Regions from separate parts of the Homo sapiens genome. Here region 1 is linked to region 2. A link means that fine-mapping ties the variant in region 2 to the expression of a gene that starts in the linked region. Tissue or cell type: whole blood. Region 2 holds a variant in brackets; the other region holds the start of a gene. All regions are shown on one strand. Distances are between the middles of the regions.

Evidence for each region. PIP is the estimated chance that this variant, and not a neighbour inherited with it, causes the effect.
Region 1: it holds the start of IRF2BPL, and the variant in region 2 is fine-mapped to the expression of IRF2BPL in whole blood (TOPMed, PIP 0.99).

What each region holds. Positions count from the first base shown.
Region 1 is chr14:77,024,250-77,032,350 of GRCh38, forward strand. It overlaps IRF2BPL (interferon regulatory factor 2 binding protein like), which reads right to left and starts at 4,459. Exons shown (of 1, transcript NM_024496.4): 1 at 294-4,459. The coding sequence starts at 3,543. The coding sequence ends at 1,153. It overlaps LOC107984638 (a long non-coding RNA gene), which reads left to right and starts at 3,219. Exons shown (of 4, transcript NR_190002.1): 1 at 3,219-3,562; 2 at 5,039-5,231; 3 at 5,412-5,487; 4 at 5,578-7,323. LOC105370579 (a long non-coding RNA gene) reads right to left here. Exons shown (of 2, transcript NR_169510.1): 2 at 7,310-8,101. RefSeq lists silencers at 1-23, 3,589-4,088, 4,209-4,418, 4,619-4,748 and an enhancer at 5,512-6,032.
Region 2 is chr14:77,059,082-77,067,182 of GRCh38, forward strand. LINC02288 (long intergenic non-protein coding RNA 2288) reads left to right here. Exons shown (of 4, transcript NR_110554.1): 2 at 457-647; 3 at 6,990-7,113; 4 at 8,028-8,101. Among named protein-coding and RNA genes, the nearest start is that of LINC02289, 13 kb to the right of the region's middle. The variant CCA/C (reference allele first, on the strand shown) is at 3,464.

The DNA of each region.
Region 1 (8,101 bases), 35 kb before region 2:
TCTTGACAATGCCATTTGCAGCTGGGCCCGCATCCGGGGGAAAATAGAGATGCTGAAGAGTAAACCGAAATCGCTTAGTCAGCAACTGTCGCCTCCCCAAGAGGTGAATTTAAATAGCCTGGTACCGAGGGGGAGGGGCAGCAAGGCAGCACAGGGCCTTTCCCACAGGCCAGCTCCCAGGGCTTTCAAAAGCACTAGGATTTTCGTTCTATACTGGAGGTAGGGAGGGTGTCGCCTACGTCGGAGTTGCATGGCCTTAGCCCTAGAAAGACAAAATTGCTGACTCAGCGCAGTTAATATCAATTGAATTTATTACAAGTTACTAAGCTCCAAGGCACATTACAGTGTTCTGTTAACTACAGAAATGTATAAAGGACAAACAGAGCAGATTCTCCATGTCTAGCATTTCGCTCTACTGTTCAAAAGCATCCGTGCATCAATAAAGCAAAAACAAAACAACACGTGTAGATCCAACACATTCAGGTCAGTAGAAACAAACCAAAACATTTTCCCCTCACAAACTTGCAACAAAATACACCCCATCCCCCCCGACACCCCCTTACCATTTTGCAAACAAAACAGAAAAACAAAACAAAACAACAAAATAAAGTGAAGACTTCAACACTTGGGGCAGTTTAGAAGGAAGCTTTCACCATTTTATAGCATTTTTTTTTTTTTTTTTTTTTTTTTTTTTTTTTTTTAGGCAGCAACACTGGCCTTGGCAAAAAAAAAAAAAAAAAAAAAAAAGTCTTTTTCTTTTGTGTGTGTTTTTCCTTTCAGAGAGTGCATAACATTTACAAAAATACACACCAGCAGCAGTCGTTGCTAAGGGCTATTAATTCTGTACCTAGGCAAACATTCTGCCACCAAATAAATGCTAACGATATGATGCAAATGACCCAACCAATACTATACTGCTTAACACAAACCAGCTTATCCTTCAAATGAAGAAGTTACATACCTTTGTTTCAAAATATAGAAACATACGACGAAAATAATGTCTATACATAAGACTAACTTTTTGCAGTTTCGTTATATTCACAATTCTACACCTTGGGGGTGAGGGGAGGGAGGGTCGAGTTGGGTTGGGGGAGGGGCCCTCAGGATTGGAGAGGAGCTGGTCTAGGGCAAAGGAGGTGGCTGCCCAGTGGTTCAAGGGTCTCTCTCCTTTTTCACTTTAACATCCCCAGCTAAGATAGTCGCGATTTCGCCCTGCATGAAGGCCCAAGGTACATTCGACCCGACTAGGGGGCATTTCTCTCCGCTGGGGCAATACACCTCGCCGGTGGCCCCCTGGGCCTTGATACTCTCTCTAGAGCAAGGGAAGCAAAATTTGTGGCTGGGGACGGAAGGGCACTGAACGAAATGCGTATCCTCCAAACGTTCGTGGCAAATGGTGCAGCAGAGGGGTCCGCTGTTGGCCATGGGGGAATCCGGAATGTTTTGGGGGTGCACTTGGTCCATGCCCGGGTGGGCGCTAGGCGGCGGGGGCGCCACCTGTAAATTCAGGTCCCCGTTACGTGATGCCAAGCGGCGCTGCCCCGGCACGGAGGCCGGCGAGACTGGGCTGCTGCTGTTTCGCCGCGCCGACGCAGTGGTAGAGTGCACGGAACTGCCATCCTTGGGCGAGTGCGCTGTGCCCAGAGTATCTGCCACCGACATGAGAGCGGCCATAGGGGACGGACCGTTCTGGGGGGCTGACTCAGGTGGGGTGGTCCGGTTGGAATGGGGTCCCAGAGGTGGGGGCGGCGGAGGCGGACCCCCCGCCGCGTGCCCCGGCGCCGCGAAGCCCCCGGCGGACATGGTGAGCTTCAGCGCCTCGCTCTGGTTCGCCATCCACTGCTGCCTCTGCTGTTCCTCGCCCAGCTTCAGCGCGCCCTCGGCTGAGTCCGGGGGCTCCGGAGAGGCCTTTCTCTTGCGCAGGCTGGCGGCTGCGCCCCGGCCCGACGGCGCGGCGGGCGGCAAGGCCCCGGTCCCCGGGGGTGCGCTGGGGGCGCGGCTCAGACTCACCAGAGCAGTGGGCAGCATGGGACAGCTGGCGTCCAGGTAGGGCTGGGGCAGCATGTCGGCGCCGGGCACGCCCTCCTTGAAGAAGCGCACGGCTTCGGGGAGCAGGTCTCCAAGCAGGCGCCAGTCCCCGGAGCCGTGCTTCTTTTCGTACTCCAGGTACTTGAAACCCGAGGATAGGCCCCGGCCGAAGTCCTTCATGCAGTCCTGATACATCTGCTTGGCCACACCAGATGCACTGGAGTACACGTTGCCCGAGCCCGTGGGGTACTCAATGAACAGCTTCAATTCGTAGTCCATGCCGGGCTTGGAGACGGCGTCGAAGGCGAAAACGCGGCCCAGCAGCGAGTGGTCCTTCTTGAAGCGAACCTCGTAGGGCGTGCAGCCTGCCAGCGTGAGCAGCGTGTCGCGGACCATCTTGGGCTTGCTGGCCCACTCCTCGGCGCGGTTGCGCAGGCTCTCGCTCAGCTCGGCCAGGGCCTCGGCGTTGCGCTGCTTCTCCTTCAACTCGCGCTCCTGGTCTGTGCTCGACACCGAGCCGGGCCTCTTACCACCAGCACCCACGCCCACCTCTGCCACCGACGAAGAGGTCGAAGACGACGCGGAGGACGACGTGGCCGATACACCCGGGGTACCCCCGAGACAAGCGGGGCCCCCAGGAGCCCCTGGGGGAGCAGGCGTCGGGGGCCCACGGCTGCCCAGGGCGTGGGGAGGGGGTGGGGGGAGTACCGCAGCGCTGGCCGGGCCGTTAAGCAGCGTCTGCGGTAGCAGGTTGGGGGGCACGGTGAGCTGGGGGCCTCCGCCACCCCCCGGGTTGGGCAGCCCCGTAACCAGCCCACCGTGCGTTCCACGCCGAGACGCCACCGACGCCGCCGCTGAAGAAGAATTGGGGCTCTGACGGTTCAGCTCTGGGGGTCCCTCCTCTGGTGTTGGTTTGGGGAAGCCGTTTGGGCCCCCCAGGCCGTTGGGCAGTCGCGCGGTGTGGCTGCTGCTTCCCAGGCTCACCGGCGGTGGCGGGTACTCGAAGCGGCTGCGCTGTTCCACCGCAGCGGCGGCGGCGGCGGCGGCGGCGGCGGCAGCGCTTAGGCCGTAGCGCTCCAGGCCAGACGGGGCCGCCAGCACCGCAGGCTTGCTGGAACCATCAACGTGGTTGAGCTGTTGTTGCTGCTGCTGCTGCTGCTGCTGCTGCTGCTGTTGCTGCTGCTGCTGCTGCTGTTGCTGTTGCTGTTGCGCGGCGGCGGCGGCGGCCGCCGCTGCTGCCGCCGCCGCCGCCGCTTCCTTAGCCGACAGGGCCACTGTCTTGACCCCGACGGGCGGCGGCGGCCCGGGGGAGCGGCCGTCCTGGAAGCAGCCGTGCGCCCGCTTCAGCTGGCGCGCTGTCTCGATCACGAATTCGATGCGATCAGCGCCCTCGTAGTTGACGCAACCGCGGCATACGGGTTCCGAGAAGTCCCAGATCATGGCCCAGGGCATGCGGGGCAGGTCGCACAGGTAGCAAGATTGTCTCCGGGACGAGGACACCTGCGCCGCCGACATGATGCCTGCCCTGGGGAAGGTAGGCCCCCGCCCGGGCTGTCTCCGCGGCGCCTTCTCCTCCGGGAGGACTGGCCGGCTGGGGAGGGAGTCCGACTGCGGGGGAGGGAGGAGGGGGGGCGAGAAAGTTCTGCCCCAGGGGCTGGAGGGAACGCGAGTCTCCACCGCCGGCGCAGCGCCTCGCCGTGGGGGCTCCACCGCCCGGGCAGCGGACGGGTTCAGCCCTCTCTTCGCCCCCACCTCCTACTGCGGTTGACTCGTCGCGAGGGGAGCTCAGGCGCCTTCTTCCTGGTGCTGCAGACTTGGGCTGGAAGCTCCCGGCCCGAGGGGAGGGGGCGAGGGTGCCCGGTGGTGGCCGCCGTTGCCTCTTGGCCCCCTCCCCGGAGTGGCTGGTGCGTGGAAGCTCGAAAGGGGCTGTCTCTTCCTCTCCCCGGGGACCCCCCTACGAGCTGCGTCCTCTCCCCGACGGGCCCCCTGGGGCGAGGGCCAGAGGGTTCAGTGCCACCCGGTGCCCGGGTCCAATCTTGCTGAAGCCGCTGCTTCCCCGGAGGACCGGGGGAGGGGGTGGCAGCCGAGAAAGGACCTTCTCCCCTCCGCAGCGTCGGCCGTTCTGCTGGCGGCGACTGGGTTTGCACCCCGGAGGGAGCCGCCGCGGCCACTGCTTCCAGGACGCACGAGAGCAGAGGAGAGGAGTGCACGCACGCAGGCTCCCGCCGCCCCCAGGCCTGGCCGGCGCCCGGGCCGCCGCGGCTGGCGGCGCTCACGTTGGCTGCAGGGCGCTCGCGCGGCGCCTCGGCCCGGGTCGCATCCCTTCCCGCTCGTGCTCACGCTCGCCCGGAATGTGGGGTTGTGATTGTTACTCTACGTTCCGGAGGCGCGTCTCGGCGCTCCTGCTCCGGCTGCGGCTCGCGCTGTCCCCGGCTTGGCCGCGCGGGATGCCGCCCGGGCGGAGCGCTGACGTCACCGCCATGCTCTGCACCAGTTCTTCCCCCTCCCCTTTACACTTCCTCTGTGGAGCCCACTTGTTGCTCAGGCAAGGCGCATGCGCGGCAGGACGCCCAGATTCCTCCCAGCCGGCCCCTCCTCCGCGCCTCCGCCCTCCCCTCCCCCCTCGCCGTGTGTGTACAACAGCTGAGGCCCGGCGAGCTAATGCTGGAAGTCCAGAGCTGGGGGTGGAAATTAAACAGACGATGACCTTTCCTTTCCCTGCCGGGCATTCCCAAGTAAAAACGCATTTAAGAACCACTAGCGTCGTTTCCGATCCCTGCTCCCCACCCCACCCCCAAGCCTCGGCAGTGAATTTAAATGTCCTGTTTCAGGATTTTTCGCCGTGAATTTCGTATAAGGTATTAACCATTTCATCTGCGGTTGAACCTTATCCCCCCCGGCATGGATGTTAAATTCATCGCCACCACTGATGCCGAAGCACCTGCAAAATTAGCTGTTTTCCAATCTTCCAGAAATTGTCTTTTCTATTTGTTTTTGTGCCCTGATCTAGGAACCCGGGCTTCAACGATAGAGCTAAATGAATTCAGAGTGCGCTACCCTTCCCCCCAGCCGCACTTTAAAAATTTTGGCTGAACGTCTGAAGAAGATACGAGCACCCCGAGGCCTTTAAGGAAAACAGGCAACTGGCTGCGCACAGCTGCAGTTCAGGGCAGGGAGGGGGAGGGGCCGGAGAGGCCAAACAGGTGAGTGTTTTTTCTAGAGTTTGATTTTTAAAAGGTGGAGGCAGCATTTAATAATACTGATACATTTTTGTAAAGCACAGCCGCAGTTTTCAAAGTTCTTTCTCAGGCGCTGTGATCTCACTCCATGTTGCCCCAGAAGGCGGAACAAGGCCGTGATTTTTTTTTTTTTTTTTTTTTAAGACGGAGTCTTGCTCTGTCGCCCAGGCTGGAGTGCAAAATGGCGCGATCTCGGCTCACTGCAACCTCTGCCTCGCAGGTTCAAGCGATTCTTCCGCCTCAGCCTCCCAAGTAGCTGTGATTACCGGCACCCGCCATCAGGCCCAGCTAATTTTTTGTATTTTTGTAGAGACATGGTTTCACCATGTTAGCCAGCTGGTCTTGAACTCCTGACCTCAGGTGATCCTCCCGCCTCGGCCTTCCAAAGTGCTGGGATTACAAGCATGAACCACCACGCCCGGCCAAGGCCGTGATTTCTTCTGCCTTACAAGATCACTGCTCATCAGTATTGCTTATGGCACGATGGATATGTTGGTCATAGCTCTAGTTGGGGCATTTCTATTGATTATTCTAATTATTGGGTTTGCTTTTTTTTTTTTTTTTATTTCATGAAAACTGAGATAATCCCAGGGAAGGCTGGAGAAGGGAAAGCAATATAATGGGATTTCGGATTCTGAAGTGTGGCCCACCAGATTGAAATTTCCTCTCCATCACTAACTGGCTCTCCACCCTTAAGCTAGTTACCCACAAAATCTCTCTTTTCCATGGAAAAGAGAATGGAATGATAGCTCCCAGGTTGTTAGGGTTGTTTGAGATTTCAACTTCGGTTTTTTGTTTTTTTGAGATAGGATCTTGTTCTGTTGCCCAGGCTGGAGTGCAGTGGCACACTCGCGGCTGGCAGCAGCCTGACCTCCCAGGCTCAAGTAATCCTCCCACCTCAGCCTCCCTAGTAGCTGGGACTACAGGCATGTGCCATTACACCTGGCCAATTTTTTTGTATTTTTGGAAAGGGATGGGGTTTTGCCGTGTTGCCCAGGCTGGTCTCAAACTCCTGGGCCCAAGTGATGCACCCACCTTGGCCTCCCAAAGTGTTGGGATTACAGGCATGAGCCACCTCACCCGGCCTCAATTTGTTTCTTGTCATAAGAAGAGATAACGCTTACTTAGACTTGCCGTGGGACCTTAGTAAACTAGGTGGCTTTACTTGCATCACCCTTAATATTATCTACATTATTAAGGGGATATTATCTATAGTATTTTGTTGTTGTTTTGAGACAGAGTCCACTCTGTCACCCAGGCTGGAGTACAGTGACGCAATCTCAGCTCACTGCAACCTCCACCTCCCAGGTTCAAGCAATTCTCCTGCCTCAGTCTCCCAAGTACCTGGGGATACAGGCGCCCGCCACCACACCCAGCTCATTTTTGTATTTTTAGTAGAGACGGACTTTCACCATGTTGGCCAGGCTGGTCTCGAACTCCTGACCTCAGGTGATCCTCCCGCCTCAGCCTCCCAAAGTGCTGGGATTACAGGCATGACCCACCGTGACCGGCCTATTACAGTATTAAACCCTTAATATTATCTACAGGGTAGATTCTTTTACCTCCATTTTACAAACCAGGAAAGTAAAGAGGCTATATAACTTGCCTACAGCCATTAGTGATGGGGCTGGGATTTGAATCCAGTAAATCTGATTTGAGGTGTCTTTGACAAGCTCAGGCTTGCAGAGGTGGTTTGGGGTGCTCAAAATTCCCATCAGCCCCAGTTGATTTGGTGTTACATACAATCTTACGTAAGTACTATGCCAATACACCTTCATAACCAACCCCCAGCCTCCCCTTCCAAGCGCATTTGTACCACTGAGTTCTATATACAGAAGTTGTAGATCTGTCACTACCAGACTGTAACTTAAATACACCATACAGAATGGAGAGCAGTGTTGGACTCACAGTTAGTGTTAGTTATTATTAGTATTGATACTAGTGTTGGTACTATTGCTGGTTGACATGTGACAGTACTTAGTAAACTGCATAAATTGTGAGGATCACTATTATCACTCTTATTACTAGTAATTGCAATAAAGTTCAGTGGAAGCAACAAGAGATACTTACTTTTATTTTGACACTTGACTTCCAGAGCCTGTTCCCCTATCCAACCCTCCCCAGAGCCCCAATCTCCCACTCATTCTGGGGCCCCTGAGTGCAAAGGAAAGGCGAGTTTTTAAGGACAGAAGAGGAGGAGGAGCCCTAGGGAGCCCCTCTTTCATCTCAAAGCAGCCAGATTTCTGTTTTTGCAAAACAGTGAGCTCACTGTGCACTCTAGAGCAATAATAAACTTTCTCTGGCCTGCTGGCACTTTGCAGTGATTCCTCTGCAAAGAGTTGCTTGGGGAGCATTGCCTCACTCTCCCAGACTTCAGCCCTCCCCACACTACCGCTACCCTGGAGTGAGTCAAAACATAGGGGTGGGAAATGGTTTGACATCCCCGCCAGCCTGGGGCTCCTTAGCTTTGGCTCGGTTGGGTGACCCATTTCTTTACATTAATATTTATTCAGCCCTTCCCTTTATTAAACCAAAAATATTAGGGAAATAGCAACTTAGCCACAACCCTCCAGCCAGGCTGCTAGAGAAAGCAAGTTGGATTCTATGTCATGGTGTTATGTTTGGTATGCACACACATATGTCTCCATCTCCCTGTCTGTCTCTGTCTTCACTGTTACTAAAGGAGATATATATACACACATACATGCTGGGGTGCCTTCAGACACACTGAGTTAGAAATCAACGTGTATTTAAACAGACTTCCATTACAGACTCATAATCCTTTCATTTATAAAACACAGCTGTCTCCAAACCGCCCCCCCCCCCCCAACCAA
Region 2 (8,101 bases):
CTCCTGTCCAGCCTGCACAACGAACTCCCTGTTGCTCTCAGTTCAGGTCTTCTCGTGCCCTCTTTTGCCCTAGCCTGGTTGATCCATCACAGACCCCTCCTTGTCCTGGCTCCCTTATCTCCTGTCCTTTGCCCAATCTGATCCCTCCCCCTAAAGCCCCTGTCCCCTCCTCCCACACTCTTTTGGCTTGGAGCACACACCCTTGGGGGAGGTTTTAATACAGGTGCCCCCACTTGGGCTCCACTCCTGAGAAAGGAATTCTGACCTCCCTAGGAACCAGCAGATACAGAAGCAAAAACTTTAGGGATGGCTTTGGAGGCGTGTGAAAGGATGGAGAAGGCAGGGCTGTTCCAGAAACCTTCCACATAAAAGACTCTCCCATGGCTGCAAAGCCACCAGGCAGTTTGTTTCTGAGCCTTGCAGCTGTCTTGGCCATTTTCATTTTTATCTACTTAGGTTGGTCAGCGGGTCATGGCAAGCAGGAGACACAATGCTAATGACTCCGGCTCCACGTGGCGACCATTCAGGAAAAAGCTGCAATGTTCTCTCTGCCACATTAATCAGAGAAACACATCAAGAGTTGTTGCGTGGAGACAGCTTTCCTCCCAGTACTCGCCCTGCATACTAATCACCACCCCCTCCTGGCGGTGAGTCAGCTCCAAACCAGGCCGGTGGTGGTAAGGGAAGGCCAGAAACACCAGCTCCATCCACGTGGGGAGCAGCTGGAGGAGCGGGAGCCAGGCCCTCCACCGCCCAACATGCACTGTGTGTGACCATCATGGAGGCCTGGTAGGTGGGGATGGAGCACTCTGGGAAAGTTCATCCAAACCCAAATCTGGGCTACTTCCTTGTGTCTAGGTCTTGCCCAAGTCGACCAGAGGAAATGCTCCAGAAGCTGATCCCTAGACAGAGCCTTTGTTTTTTTGTTTTGTTTCGTTTTGTTTTGTTTTGAGACAGACCCTTGCTCTTTCGCCCAGGCTGGAGTGCAGTGGCGCGATCTCGGCTCACTGCAACTTCCGCCTCCTGCATTCATGCAATTCTCCTCCCTCAGCCTCCCAAGTAGCTGGGACTACAGGCATGCACCACCACGCCCAGCTAATTTTTGTATTTTTAGTAGAGACGGGGTTTCTCCATGTTGGCCAGGCTAGTCTCAAACTCCTCACCTCAGGTGATCCACCTGCCTCAGTCTCCCAAAATACTGGGCTTACAGGTGTGATCCACCGTTCCTGGCCCAGGGTCTTATTAAAATAAAGCAAGCGGGGCCTCCGTGCCAGGCACTTTGGTAACAATTAAGCCATCACCTTGGATAGTATTTCACATGTGGTAGGCAGAAAAGGAAGCCCTCTAGACAAATTAGCTCATTTAATCCTCGTACAACCCTATGAACTACTCACAGGTACTAGTAACATTACCATTTTGCAGACAAGAATGGTGACACGTGGAGAGATTAAGTAGCCAATTCAAGGTCACACAGCTAGTAATAACCAACTGGATTTGAACCCAGAGAATCTGGTTCCAGTAGCCATGCTCTCCTAGTGCTCAGGGTTGCCTGAGCTGATAGTGACCATAGGAAAGCCTCTGAATGTCTTTTGCATGTATTCACTCATTCACTCACTCATTCATTCATTCATACAGCAGTGATTTGTTGAGCATCTACTATGTACAAGGCGCCATACTAGGTACCAGGGAGACAAAGGTATGTAAAACAGACATAGGCTTAAGAGGGAGACTGACATCAATTTAACATTTTTATAAATTTATAGTAAATGCAAAATGTGATAAGTGACATGAAGGAGAAGTATTGGATCCCATGAAAGCACCTAGTACGAGAACCTCATCTGTTTGGTGAGGTCAAGGAAGGGTTCCCCGAGGAAGTGACAAATGAAGAAATAGCTTATACTGGTGGTTCTCATAATGTGGCCCCTGGCCTAGCAGCATAAGAATCACCAAGGAATCTGGTTTAAATTTTTTTTTTTTAGAGACAGGGTCTCACTTTGTTTTCCAGGTTGGAGTGCAGTGGTGCAAACATAGCTCACTGCAACCTCCTGGGCTCAAGTGATCCTCCCACCTCCCAAGTAGTTGGGACTACAGGTGCACACCACCACACCCAGCTAATTTTTTTTTTTTTTTTTTTTGGAACGAAGTTTCACTCTTGTTGCCCCAGGCTAGGGCACAATGGCATGATCTCGGCTCACTGCAACCTCTGCCTCCCGGGTTCAAGCAATTCTCCTGCCTCAGCCTCCTGAGTAGCTGGCACTACAGGCTCCAGCCACCACACCCGGCTAATTTTTGTATATTTAGTAGAGACGGGGTTTCACCATGTTGACCAGGCTGGTCTTGAACTTCTGACCTCAGGTGATCCACCCACCTCAGCCTCCCAAAGTGCTGGGATTACTGGTGTGAGCCACCACGCCTGGCCTAATTTTTTTATTTTTTGTAGAGACAGGTGTTGTCATGTTTTCCAGGCTGGTCTGAAACTCCTGGGCTCAAGCAATTCTCCTGCTTCAGCTTCCCAAAGTGCTGGGATTACAGGTGTGAGCCACTTCAGCAAAGAAATTTGTAAGAAAGGCAAACTGTCAGGCCCCACCCCAGACCCACTGAATTGGGAACTCTGCGGAAGAGGCCCAGAATCCGTGAATGAGCGTACCAGGGGCTTCCGATGCATGTTCGAGTTTCAGAACCACTGCTTGCAAGTCTTTGTGTAACAAAGGCCCCGAGGTGGGCAGGCGCAGGCACATTAGAGTACCCAAGGGGGGCCTGCAGGTGGGGCGGGAGTGGGGGTGGGGCTGGATGGTGGTTTACACTGGCCTTGCAGGCATGCTCAGCAGTTCAGCACGCATCATTTCCAGTCACCAGGAGGCCTGGCCAGAGGTTCCTCTGCCCTAAGAACCCTCAAGGAGTAGCAGGTCACCTGTGTGTCCAGGCTGGCCAAGTTACGTAAAAGCATGGAGATGACTATGACAAAGGCTTCTAGAGGCCCCTGGTCACCTGATCTTGACCATGTTTTGACTTCCAGGAAGCACTAGTCAGACAGTGAATTCTGTTGCTGTGAAAATGCCTTAGTCCTCAATGCCGAGAGAGGAACCCCAGAGGGAAACACCTCCTTATCCTCAAGAAGCCTTTGCAAAGGGCCTGTGGGTCCTGTTTCCCCTTGGATCGGTGCTAGCAAGGGACATTATCTGCTGAGCAGAGGGTTGCTAGAGGTGGCTTCTACCCTCCTCAGGAGGCAACCCTGAAACAGACACATTGCATTAAAGACCCTGCGCAGCAGAAGGCAGGTATCACCCGCTGAGAGAGCTGGTTGGGTGGAGTCAACGTGAGCTGCTGGAGCTGGGCTCATTGCACAGGAAGGACTGGCTGCTAGTTCTTTGGCTAAGCCTGAACAGGCTGGGTGTGGTCACACCTGCTTGCTGGACATGTTAGCCCAGAAATACATCAAAATTGGTGACAACCAAACAGCCCC[CCA/C]GACTCAGAGTCAAGTGGCATTTATGGGGTACCTACTATGTGCTAGACACTGTATGAGGCCCTTTCACAGGTGTTAGCTCTCTGGTAAAGCTCCCAAGTTTGCAGATCCCTTCTCCATCACCCTGTCTACAAGTGCAGATCAATCGTTAGTTCATGCTTGGTGCATCAGGACTCAGTGGCGAGCAGGACAGACATGGTATTTTCAGGGGCAACACAGCGGGGGAAAACAAAGAGATATACATGTGCCAGATAAGGAGCTATTGGTTGTTTTTAGGGCCAACTGTGAGGGTTCCCAGTGCTTTGTATCAAGAATGACTTTCTTTTTAAGGGTCTCTTGTAGAGAGAAAGAAATAAAGACAAACCACAGTTGGCTTGCGAGACTCACATTGGCTTTGCCCACAGTTACTGGTTTTTTTTTGTTTTTTTTTTTTTGTGAGACGGAGTCTCACTCTGTCACCCAGGCTGGAGTGCAGTGGCACCATCTCGGCTCACTGCAAGCTCCGCCTCCTGGGTTCACGCCGTTCTCCTGCCTCAGCCTCCCGAGTAGCTGGGACTACAGGCACCTGCCACTACGCCCGGCTAATTTTTTGTATTTTTAGTAGAGACAGAGTTTCATCGTGGTAGCCAGGATGGTCTCGATTTCCTGACCTCGTGATCCACCCGCCTCGGCCTCCCAAAGTGCTGGGATTACAGGCGTGAGCCACTGCACCCAGCCTGCTCACAGTTACTGTTAAACACCACAGTAGAACCTGCCAGTAGCTGAGCACACGCAGGGCGCCAGCCACTAGACAGCATGGTTATCCAGCCACTAGACAGCATGGTTATCCATCTCACTTCCTCCTCTTTCCAGCTGCCCCGCCTCTCCATGGGGTTTTTCACAAGACGATCAGAGACCCAGAGACCCAAAGGAAAGGGAGACAATGGGGATTGGAGGCCACGGGCTTTAGGGGAAGGTAGGGGGCAAAAAATAGAGCATATGCAAAGCCCTGTCCTTGTTACTTCCCTCCCCAATCTCCACCACCACCCAACTGGCATATGAACTTGTTCTTCTTGTATACAGCTCTGAGCAAAGCACCATATGGCAGTTTCATCAGGCCCACGGCCTGGTTTCCATCCAGCCCACTCTAATTTCCTTCCAGTCATGGATCTGCAGAATAACCCATCCTGTGGAAGGAGCTCAGAGGAAGAAAAAGATAACAATAACAGTAAAGATATACAGAGCACAAACCACAGCGGGGAGCTGTTCCAATTATGTGTATGTTTGACGCTTGCAACAGCTCTAGGAATATCGCTGTTAGCATCCCCATTTTATAGATGACAAAACTGGGAGACAGATGTTCCGAGACATTCTCAAGGTCACATGGCTAGTGATGACAGAGCTGGGATGGGAGCCATGTTAACCGTCAGACTTTGCTGATTCGCTGAATCTTGGCTAAAAGATGTTGGCAGGAAGGGCTGAGAGCTTAGAAGAAGGGGTCCTCCCGGTCTGGCTGGGACAGGGTGATGCCAGCAAAAAGGCCCCTAAATCCACAAGCAGGGGAGGGGCGGGGTCAAGGCCCGGCTGACCTGACTCCAGCAAGCAGGGTCTGAGCTCCATAAGTGGAGGTGTCAGGGAAGCATGCAGAGGACTGGGAAGCAAGGAAGACCCCTGGAAGCAGCCCCCGCAGAGGAGGGTCAGGGAGGGCTGGGGGGCCCCCAGGAGCCCCAGGAGCTTGTCCCTCTTTGGGCTTCCTTCCGTGGCTAGGTTCTCTGCTCACCAGGAGTAAAGGGTAAGCATCCTCTCTGAGCCTGCAGAGCAGCAAGCCTGCACTGAGGCATTGTAGGAATGAGTGGCCCCTGGGATGGAAGGACCTGGGTATGGGTCTCAGCTCCATATCTTTGGGTTGTGTGGCCAAATCACACCCCATCACTCCCATGTCTGTGAGCCTCATCTATAGGGCAGTTAAGGAATGTGAATGGGCTGAAGTATCAGGAAACCAGCTGGGATCCTATCTCAGAAGAGGTGTATAGTACATGATCGTGCCCCTAGCCCCCATTCTTCCTTCTAGAACAAGGAAGGAGAAAACAAAGGCTCCCCGGGCAGTGAAGGCTGGGCCCTTGGTAGGCTTGGCAACCATGCAATCTCTAGAATGGAAGGGCTCCTCCCTCAGAGCACAGCCCTGGAGAGTCACAGCTGTTGCCCTGGGTCTGGCAGGACGAGGGAGGCAGTGCCAGGCTAGATAGAGAGTTTGAGGGACTCTAGGTTGGCAGTGGGGACTGTCATGCCCTGGCTCCTTTAGGATTCACAGGCCAGAGTGGTGGCTGTAGCCTAGTCCTCACTGCCAGAGACCCCACACCACAGTGGAGCCTGCACCAGGCACAGAGGCAGGAGGCAGAGCCATGCTTGCCCCTTTCTGCCATCCCTAGGATGCTAGAGGTAGCATCCTCCCAGCATGCTGGCAGGTGCGAGAAGGAGCTTTACTTGATGTAGCGACACCCCTGCTTCCCCCTGAGCCTTTGGGTTCCTTCCCACTTATGTCCCCTGCTGCGGGTCCACATGAGGGGCTTCTCACCCCGAGGCTGCCTCTACAGTGTCCACTGGACAACCTGGCCACCGCAGCCCCAGACTCAGATCACAAGGCCAGGATGGGCCTAGGATGCTTTGACCCTTCCAGCACAGCAGGAGCCTTTTGATGTGGGTCCAGGCAATGTCCAGCTCTCCTGCCCAGGGCTCGTTCTTGGAGAGTAAATGGGAAGGAACTTTGGAGGGAGCTGCTCTCCGTAGGAGATGATAAAAAATGGGAATTTGGGAATTTGGGGAAGGATTTGACGGATAAGGGAGTTAGGTAACAGGCAAAGAAGAAAGGAGGGAAGTTTCTTTTTCTTTTTTTATTTTTACACAATTTTTTTTTCCCTCCCTGGGGAAAAAATGTGAGCACAGAGGTAAAGAGAGAAGAAAAGTGAGCCAGGCGCGGTGGCTCACACTTGTAATCCCGGCACTTTGGGAGGCCGAGGCGGGTGGATAACTTGAGGTCAGGCGTTCAAGACCAGCCTGGCCAACATGGTGAAACCCCATCTCTACTAAAAATACAAAAATTACCCGGGTGTATTGGTGCGTGCCTGTAATCCTAGCTACTCGGGAGGCAGAGGCAGGAGAATCGCTTGAACTCGGGAGGCAGAGGTTGGAGTGAGCTATCTTGCCACTGCATTCCAGCCTGGGTGACAGGTGACAAAGCAAGAATCTGTCTCAAAAAAAAAAAAAAAGAAAGAAAGAAAGAAAGAAAAGTGAAAAATTCCTTTTATTCCATTTCCGGCCAATATCACCGTTTTCCCCAATCATCCCAGACTTCTGGGCGTTTACATGCATAATACATGTATGTACCCAGGGGGATGATGTCAAGATCTTTGTTTTGCTTTGATTTTACATGAAGGGGATCATGCTGACCACATTGCTTTGCAACTTTTCCCCCATAACTGTATATTCTGGACATTTTCTCATGTCAACAAAAATAGGACTTCCTCTTTTTTTTTTTTCTTTCTTCTAGAGATGCGGTTTCACTCTGTTGCCCAGGCTAGAGTGCACTAATACAATCATAGCTTACTGCACCCTCAACCTCCTGGGCTCAAGCAATCCTCCTGCCTCAGCCTCATGAGTAGCTGGGACTACAGGTGAGCACCACCACACCTGGCTATCCTCATTTTTTGTTTTTAACCTCTACCTAATATTCCATGCGTGCCTGTAACACAGTTGATTCAACCACGCCCCTCTCACTCCCCCTCACTCAGGGTCCCAGCTCTAGAGGACATGGGTCAAAAGGTTTTCATGGTAAATGGTGCCTCTGCACAATTCCAGGGGATGCCATCCACACCCAGAATGCAGCAGCCCTGCCTGATGAAGAGATAAGGTGGCTCCAGTTTTTACCATACAAACAATTCTGCACCGAGCATGCTCACCCATGTCTCTTTGTGCACATGTGTGAGTGGTTCTCCAGGCATTGATGATTCAGGGTGGAGCTGGAGGGCAGAAGTGCATGCTTCCGACATTTCAGGGACCTTGCCATGGTGTGGGAGGGCAGCCTGGGGTTCCTAAGCCCCTTCAGCCTCTGCTGAACCAGGTTGCCTAGCATACATCCATCATGTGGCTGCCGGCTGGGCCGCTGCTTCCAGGAAATCAATTGCAAAAACCTGCGATTGTCAGTGGCTCACACACTGGAGGCCATCCAGGGAGTAGATTAAATTGTATGAAAAAATAGTACAGGGCTCAAGACCGCTCGTAATGGAGACCCCTCGGTGACCTTTCTGCAGAAGTTAAAAGAACACAGGCAGACATACTCTCACCCTTGCTCACCAACGTGCTAGCCCGCCTGCCAGGAGCATAGCCCCTCTGCCCTTGGAGGAGCCGCGCCTCATTAGCAGGAAGTGGGAGGCCTGGTCCAGGGCCCAGTCTGCCTGTGCATGGCAAGAAGGCCAGCAGGGGCACCTGCTTCCCTGCAGGGTGGACCCAAGTTGACCATCAGGCCTTAGATGCTTAAGGTCACTGAGCCCCCCTTCTCCATGCCAGCCCTCTTCTGCTTCCCATGCAGGCACCACTGTGGACCCCTGCTCTGCACCCCCAGGAGGAGTGGGACTGCTTCAAGGGCAGCCTGGAGGAAAGAGG